3 separate regions of the Homo sapiens genome follow, and all the other regions are linked to region 3. Evidence: fine-mapped expression QTL. A gene starts in region 3. Each other region holds a variant in brackets. All regions are shown on one strand. Distances are from middle to middle. Region 1 overlaps MMADHC-DT (MMADHC divergent transcript). Region 2 overlaps KIF5C (kinesin family member 5C). Region 3 holds the start of KIF5C (kinesin family member 5C).

Region 1 (2,757 bases), 770 kb before region 3:
CATGTCCACCAAATCAGTCTTCCTCAGCGTGGGAGGACAGAAAGCCAGAAGTGAAATAAAAGAAGTAAAGAAGTGATGATGAGGGAAGAAAGAACATGTAGATGGCCGAATAGGAACAGCTCCAGTCTACAGCTCCCAGCGTGAGTGACTCAGAAGATGAATGATTTCTGCATTTCCAACTGAGGTACCGGGTTCATCACACTGGGGATTGTCGGACAGTGGGTGCAAGACAGTGGGTGCAGTGCACTGAGCATGAGCCGAAGCAGGGCAAGGCATCACCTCACCCAGGAAGCGCAAGGGGTCAGGGAATTCCCTTTCCTAGCCAAGGAAAGGGGTGACAGACAGCACCTGGAAAATCGGGTCACTCCCACCCTAATACTGTGCTTTTCCAATGGTCCTAGCAAACAGCAAACTAGAAGATTGTATCCCACCTGGCTCGGAGGGTCCTACGCCCATGGAGCCTCGCTCATTGCTAGCACAGCAGTCTGAGATCAAACTGCAAGGCAGCAGCAAGGCTGGGGGAGGGGAGCCCACCATTGTAGGTAAACAAAGCAGCCAGGAAGCTCGAACTGGGTGGAGCCCACTGCAGCTCAAGGCCTGCCTGTCTCTGTAGACTCCACCTCTGGGGGCAGGGCATAGCCCAACAAAAGGCAGCAGAAACCTCTGCAGACTTAAATGTCCCTGTCTGACAGCTTTGAAGAGAGTAGTGGTTCTCCCAGCACACAGCTTGAGATCTGAGAACAGACAGACTGCCTCCTCAAGTGGGTCCCTGACCCCTGAGTAGCCTAACTGGGAGGCACCCCCGAGTAGGGGCAGACTGACACCTCACACGGCCGGGTACTCCTCTGAGACAAAACTTCCACAGGAACGATCAGACAGCAACATTTGCTTTTCACTAATATCCGCTGTTCTGCAGCCTCTGCTGCTGATACCCAGGCAAAAAGGGTCTGGAGTGGACCTCCAGAAAACTCCAATAGACCTGCAGCTGAGGGTCCTGACTGTTAGAAGGAAAACAAACAGAAAGGACATCCACACTAAAACCCCATCTGTACGTCACCATCATCAAAGACCAAAGGTAGACAAAACCACAAAGATGGGGAAAAAACATAGCAGAAAAACTGAAAATTCTAAAAATCAGAGCACCTCTCCTCCTCCAAAGGAATGCAGCTCCTCACCAGCAATGGAACAAAGCTGGACAGAGAATGACTTTGACGAGTTGAAAGAAGAAGGCTTCAGACGATCAAACTACTCTGAGCTAAAGGAGGAAGTTCGAACCCATGGCAAAGAAGTTAAAAACATTGAAAAAAGATTAGATGAATGGCTAACTAGAATAACCCATGCAGAGAAGTCATTAAAGGACCTGATGGAGCTGAAAACCATGGCACAAGAACAACGTGACGAATACACAAGCCTCAGTTGCCACTTCGATCAACTGGAAGAAAGGGTATCAGTGATGGAAGATGAAATGAATGAAATGAAGCAAGAAGAGAAGTTAAGAGAAAAAAGGATAGAAAGAAACGAACAAAGCCTCCAAGAAACATGGGACTATGTGAAAAGACCAAATCTACATCTGACTGGTGTACTTGAAAGTGACGGGGAGAATGGAACCAAGTTGGAAAACACTCTGCAGGATATTATCCAGGAGAACTTCCCCAATCTAGCAAGGCAGGCCAACATTCAGATTCAGGAAATACAGAGAACACCA[C/T]AAAGATACTCCTTGAGAAGAGCAACTCCAAGACACATAATTGTCAGATTCACCAAAGTTGAAATGAAGGAAAAAATGTTAAGAGCAGCCAGAGAGAAAGGTCGGGTTACCCACAAAGGGAAGCCCATCAGACTAACAGCTGATCTCTTGGCAGAAACTCTAAAAGCCAGAAGATAGTGGGGGCCAATATTCAATATTATTAGAGAAAAGAATTTTCAACCCAGAATTTCATATCCAGCCAAACTAAGCTTCATAAGTGAAGGAGAAATAAAATACTTTACACACAAGCAAATGCTGAGAGATTTTGTCACCACCAGGCCTGCCTTAAAAGAGCTCCTGAAGGAAGCACTAAACATGGAAAGGAACAACTGGTACCAGCCACTGCAAAAACATGCCAAATTGTAAAGACCATCGAGGCTAGGAGGAAACTGCATCAACTGACGAGCAAAATAACCAGCTAACATAATAATGACAGGATCAAATTCATACATAACAATGTTAACCTTAAATGTAAACGGGCTAAATGCTCCAATTAAAAGACATAGACTGGCAAATTGGATAAAGATTCTAGACCCATCAGTGCGCTGTATTCAGAAAACCCATCTCACATGCAGAGACACACATAGGCTCAAAAATAAAAGGAGAGAGGAAGATCTACCAAGCAAATGGAAAACAAAAAAAGGCAGGGGTTGCAATCCTAGTCTCTGATAAAACAGACTTTAAACCAACAAAGATCAAAAGAGACAAAGAAGGCCATTACATAATGGTAAAGGGATCAATTCAACAAGAAGAGCTAACTACCCTAAATATATATGCATGCAATACAGGAGCACCCAGATTCATAAAGCAAGTCCTTAGAGACCTACAAAGAGACTTAGACTCCCACACAATAATAATGGCAGACTTTGACACCCCACTGCCAAAGTTAGACAGATCAACGAGACAGAAAGTTAACAAGGATATCCAGGAATTGAACTCAGCTCTGCACCAAGCAGACCTAATAGACATCTACAGAACTCTCCACCCCAAATCCACAAAATATACATTCTTTT
Region 2 (2,757 bases), 100 kb before region 3:
AAAATTCTAAAATCAGCCATACAGGATCTGAATCTCCTTGTCCTTTATGTAGACCATCATTTGGCTTTGCTTTTCTACTTAAAGAGATCCTGTTTCTACTGAACCCTTTACACCAATGTTTCTTTAATGGTTCTATTTTCCTGCACAAATCATATTAGGGAAATTATACCAGAATGAAACCTCCAAAAACTGGCACTTCTACAACTAGAAGACTATTTTGTAGATATATTTTCTCTTCTACTTTATAAACTTAGCACGTCAGTTACCAGTAACGATTTTGTGTTTATGTTCCTGAGCACTTAAATATTAGACAACTTAGCATAAAGGATTCAAAGAATTTACCATCGGAGAGCCACCATCTCTTCTCCTGGGACAAATGGACAAGCACTACAAGTGATATAAACCACAAGAGGAGAGAAATGGAGTGAACTCTGTCCTTACGCTGTGCTCATTTCAAAGCCTGAAGATGCAGGCTTCCTCCCAACAGATGACAAGCTGGGATGCAGTGATTTTTAAGGTACAGTGAAAAACCAAGGGCCCCTGGCCCCACCTGGGAAGGATGAAGAACAAGGATGATACTACAGAAGACGTGGATCACTTGTATCAGAGACATTTCCCAAACTATATTTACCCTTTATTAAGGCAACTTATCTAAGGAATTAATGAGCTCTACTGTGATTTTTTTTAAAGTCTTTCAAAACCTCCAGAATAATAAGGTGTGCTTATATCTACACATTCAACTGCATCTCTTAGAACATGCATAAGCACGCTCACTCTGATGCCGGTTCTAAAGATCTTGTCCATGGATAACAGATTTTAAAGCACTTTTCAGAAAGTATTTTATACTTGAATTTTCTTATACATGAAATAACATAAGGCCAGTTACAGTGGCTCACGCCTATAATCCCAGCACTTTGGGAGGCCAAGGCAGCTTGATCACTTGAGCCCAGGAGTCCGAGACCAGCCTGAGCAACATGGCAAATCTCCGTCTCTACAAAACATACAAAAAAAAAAATTAGCTGAGTGTGGTGGTATGTGCCTGTAGTACCAGCTACTCAGGAGGCTGAGGCAGGTGGATGGCTTGAGCCTGGAAGGTTGAAGCTGCAGTGAGTTGTGATTTCACCACTGCACTCTAGTCTGCGCAACAGAACAAGACCCCATCTCAAAAATTAAAAAAAAAATAACATGCGGCCAGGCGTGGTGGCTCAGGCCTGAAATCCCAGCACTTTGGGAGGCCGAGGCAGGTGGATCACGAGGTCAGGAAATCAAGACCATCCTGGCCAAGATGGTGAAGCCCCATCTCTACTAAAAATACAAAAATTAGCCAGGCGTGGTGGTGTGCGCCTGTAGTCCCAGCTACTCAGGAGGCTGAGGCAGGAGAATTGCTTGAACCCAGGAGGCAGAGGTTGCAGTGCACTGAGGTCGCACCACTGGACTCCAGCCTGAGTGACAGAG[C/T]GAGACTCCATCTCAAAAAATAAATAAATAAATAAATAAATAAATAAATAAATAAAACAAAATAATATGCACACCCTTATAAATGAGAAACTGGTCAACCTCAGTTGTCAACAGGTCACTGTTCACCTTTAAGTATAAAAATGTTTTTATTGCAATGGTAATCTGCATAAAAATAATCAACTTTCATTTCTACTTAAGCTTGGTTCGTGTCAGGATCTCCAAGAGCAGAGCAGTACTGTAGAGGGACAGAGACTAAGAGACAAGGAGTGCCAGCGCCAACTTGTTCACATTGTGTCTCTGCTGGTGGCCCCCTTGGCACCACCCCTTCCACACCACACACGGAAGTAAGCAGAGCCCAGCCCAGCCCAGGAGAAAGAAGGAAGCTAATATTTACTGGGCACCTGCAATGTACTAGAAACTTTTAATCCTCACCACAGCCTTTTGAATTAACAGATATAAGCCCCATGATACAGATGAGAAAAAGCACCTTCAGCAGGGCCAGGCGCCAGCCCAGGACTCAGCATTATTGTCACAGGTCTGCCCAGGTCTCAGTGTCATTGTTACAGGTCTGAGTCCACAGTGCATGCTCTCCCATCACACAGCATAGCCTTGGGAGAGTACCTGTGCTTGGAGCCCTGGCGGGGCAGCACGGAGGAACAGAAGGGACAGCTGGGAGGAAACCGTGTGGTCTTTCTCCCTCCACACCCTAAATAGATTCACTGAGGTTGACCAGGTCCTCATTTAAAGGGCTGAGGGCAAAATGAGATGAGCACTGGGGTGGGAGTCAGAAGATATGTAACTTCATCCTAGCTCTGCCACCTATATGTGATATACACTTGGGTAAGTCACATAACCACCCTGGGCTAGTGCCTCACCCAAACCTAAATACCTCCTGTTCTACCTTTCAGTAGACTAAGAAGGTGCCATATCCCACCTCATGTATTCTTCAAGCGTCAAACCACCTACATCAACAGAAACATGGAAGTGCCTCCTAGAACATTTCAGAGGAGGACCCCTAAGAATGACAGTTGGTAAGACATAATCAGGCAGTCTTTGGGAAGGGTCACTGAGGGCAAACCATTAGCTCTGGTGCCCCCTAAGGCTGAGGCTTCTAGGCTCAGTCCTCTCCCACGTCTCTCAGCATCATCATGTGAGGGACCACAAATACTAGCCTCCAACAGCGGGCCTTACAGAATCTTCAAAGCACATGCTGTAGGAAAATGACATAACAAAATGGCCTAGGCTGACCATCAGGAGACGGAGACTCTCAAGCCAGCTCTTCAGCTACCAACTGAATGCTTT
Region 3 (2,757 bases):
ATCAGAGGGTCTGCAGACATGGGAGGGAGGTCATCCCAGAGGGGAGGGATCAAGCCGGGACTCCACATCCAGGGCAGCCAGGCGTGAGAGGAAGCGGGAGACACACCAGGCCTCCAGGGGACACCGAGGCCACCAGTACTCCCCCAACCCTCCGCCTTCCGCGCGCGGAGCCAGGTGTAACACCGCGGGGAGCCGCGTCTACACTGCCGCGGGAGCTCCGAGACGCGACTAGAAATTTTCCTGTACCCCTTTTTCTTTCTTTTTTGCTAGGGTCGTGAGAAGAAGAGGCAAGGCGTTTGGTAAATCGAATTGATTGATGCCCAGAAGCATTTGCGGGTTGCAGAGCTCACACTTTAAAGGGGGCCTGGGCACCCGGCTTGAGGGTCACCCGAACACACTACCCACGCGGCGAGGCGAGCGTGGGGAACAATGGGCCCACCCGGGCCCCCACCCGGCGAACAATGGCGGCGCCGAGCCCGTCTTCGCCCCCCATCCCCACCCCCGCCACCCCCGCCCGGCCCGCCGCTCCCGGCCGCCTCTCCACCCGCCCGGGAGGGAACCATAGTGCGCGGGGCGAGGGGTCTCTGGTCAGGTCCACCCGAGAGGCCAGCCCCGCGGGAATGTCCGAGGGGGCGGCCTAAACACCTCCGCTGCGTCTGGGGCGTCGGGGCGCCCAGCTGCGGCGCGGAGCAGCAGGGAAGGCAGACGCCCCAGCCACTTACCCCGATCACCACGGTCTCATCGCCTTTAAATTTGGGGATGAATTTGTCCCCGCGGAGGATCTCCGCTTCGTTGAGGGGCCGGAACCGGCACATCACTTTGATGCTGCATTCGGCTGGATCCGCCATCTCGGCCGGCGGTAGGGAGGGGGCACGGGGATGGGTGGGGGGCCGGGGCCGGGAACGACGAGGGAGGAGGCCGCGAGCTGCACCGCCCACAGCTAGGCCGCCTCCTGCAGCCTCCGACGACGCTTCTCAGCAGGTCATCGCGAGCCCGGCCGGCTGAGCAGCCCCGGCCGCTCCGAGCCCGGGAAGGTGGGCAGCTTCTCCGCTCCGGCCCCTCCGGCTGCAGACCGGCCTGCCCTGGCCCTGCCCCGCCCCTGCCCAGCGCCCCCCGGCCCACCTGCCCGCGACCACGCGGCGGGCGGAGGAGGCGATGCGCAGGGAGCGAGCCTCGCCCGGCTCAGACCTCCCGGGCTCCTGCGCGCTCAGCCATCCTGCATCAGCACCAGCGCGCTCTGCCGCCTTGAGACCCGCCCCTCCGCCCCGCCCTCCCCTGGCCCGCCCCGGGACGGTGACGTCACCGTAGAGGTCCGCCCGGCCCCCGCCCGACTCCGAGCGCTGCGCATCCCGGGACTTGTAGTCACTCTACCTGCCGGGGGAAGGACAGGATGCGACCTCCAAGAGCCTGCAAGTCCGGTCTGGCTGCCCAAGCCGGAACCGGATGGAGGTCATATCCAATATTTCCGGTTAAAATCTCTAGATAACTGGGTCTGGATCATCCTGATCCCAAAAGAAAATCACTTGGGAAACAGCTCCCAATAGCCCCTGGGTTTCATCCTTCAACTTCTACCACTAGATAAGGATGGATGTCTGTTCAGAGTTTGGGTTTGATTGGCCTTGGTTTAGGTTGGCATCTAGTGCTAAACCAATCAACCAGAATCAGGGATTTTGTAAGATTATGGAGGAATCCCTTGGTGGGAAGGTTCCCAAAAGAAGAGGGATGGTATTCCCAGACATGGTGCCGGGCTGGCAGAACAACTGAGTGTCCACTCTATTTTTCCAGAACTTCCTTTTCCTCTAAGACCTAGCTCAACCCTCCTTCCTCAGACTTTCCCAGCTCACTAAACACCTATAAAGAGTTGGTGGCCCTCCTTGATGTTCCCCTAATCTGCTGTGCCTGTCTCTAGCACTGCACTTGGGTGGTGATATCTGCTTGATATCTTTGTGTCTGTAGCATCTAGCACATAGTGGGCAGCATACTGAATAAGGATTCTACCCTAGGAAGAAGCAATGCATGAGTGTGAATCCCACCTCAGCCACTTATTAGATGTATGACCAACAGGCGGAGGAAATTAAGAGCGGAGGAAATTAAGAAGTCTTAATTTCCTTAAGACTCAGTTTCCTCATCTCTGTCATTGGAATAATATCATCTTGTGATTTCTGGGGGAATTAAAAGACAGATGCTTTTAAAGCACCTAGCACGGTGCCTGACATGTATATAGGATAAGCTCTTGAAAGTTAGATGTTATTGGGTGCTGAACAAATGATCATAAAACAAATAAGTTAGTTAATTTTAGGAACACATCTGTTGCTTAAATTCGGGTAATACCTGAAAATACAAGTGTTCTCTGCCTAGCTGAGAGGACAGACCTACTAAAATCAACTTTTATAAACCCTTGTAAGTAGTACCAGTTCTATTTCATCTCCTCATGTGCAGTGGAAGTAGATTAAAAAGACCCAGGTGCCACCTTCTCATCTGTTTTTAAATTAAGTAATTCTCAGGCTCTGGCTCAGAGACCCATCATCTTAAATGATCAACTTCATAATATACTAGAGAGGACAATCCAATTCTCAGTTTCCCTGAGCCCACCAGAAGATGCCCAGAACCTTGCATACACTGGTTTATCTGAGGAGGTCAGGATTATCTCAAGTGGACAGAGACGTATCTGTGTGTCACTGTGTTCAGTCATCATTCATTCGTTCATCTGTTCATTCATCAGCTATTAACTGAGCAAATGGCATTTGCTGTCACTCT

The links.
Region 1: its variant is fine-mapped to the expression of KIF5C in spleen (GTEx, PIP 0.99).
Region 2: its variant is fine-mapped to the expression of KIF5C in whole blood (TOPMed, PIP above 0.99).

Annotation. Positions count from the first base shown.
Region 1 is chr2:149,641,334-149,644,090 of GRCh38, reverse strand. The region is part of intron 1 of MMADHC-DT (MMADHC divergent transcript); the gene reads right to left. Among named protein-coding and RNA genes, the nearest start is that of MMADHC, 55 kb to the right of the region's middle. The variant C/T (reference allele first, on the strand shown) is at 1,706.
Region 2 is chr2:148,975,000-148,977,756 of GRCh38, reverse strand. All of the region lies in intron 12 of KIF5C (kinesin family member 5C), which reads right to left. Among named protein-coding and RNA genes, the nearest start is that of LYPD6B, 62 kb to the left of the region's middle. The variant C/T (reference allele first, on the strand shown) is at 1,456.
Region 3 is chr2:148,873,709-148,876,465 of GRCh38, reverse strand. It overlaps KIF5C (kinesin family member 5C), which reads right to left and starts at 1,239. Exons shown (of 26, transcript NM_004522.3): 1 at 723-1,239. The coding sequence starts at 848. KIF5C-AS1 (KIF5C antisense RNA 1) reads left to right here. Exons shown (of 4, transcript XR_001739733.2): 4 at 271-2,757. RefSeq lists an enhancer at 1-573 and a silencer at 946-1,415.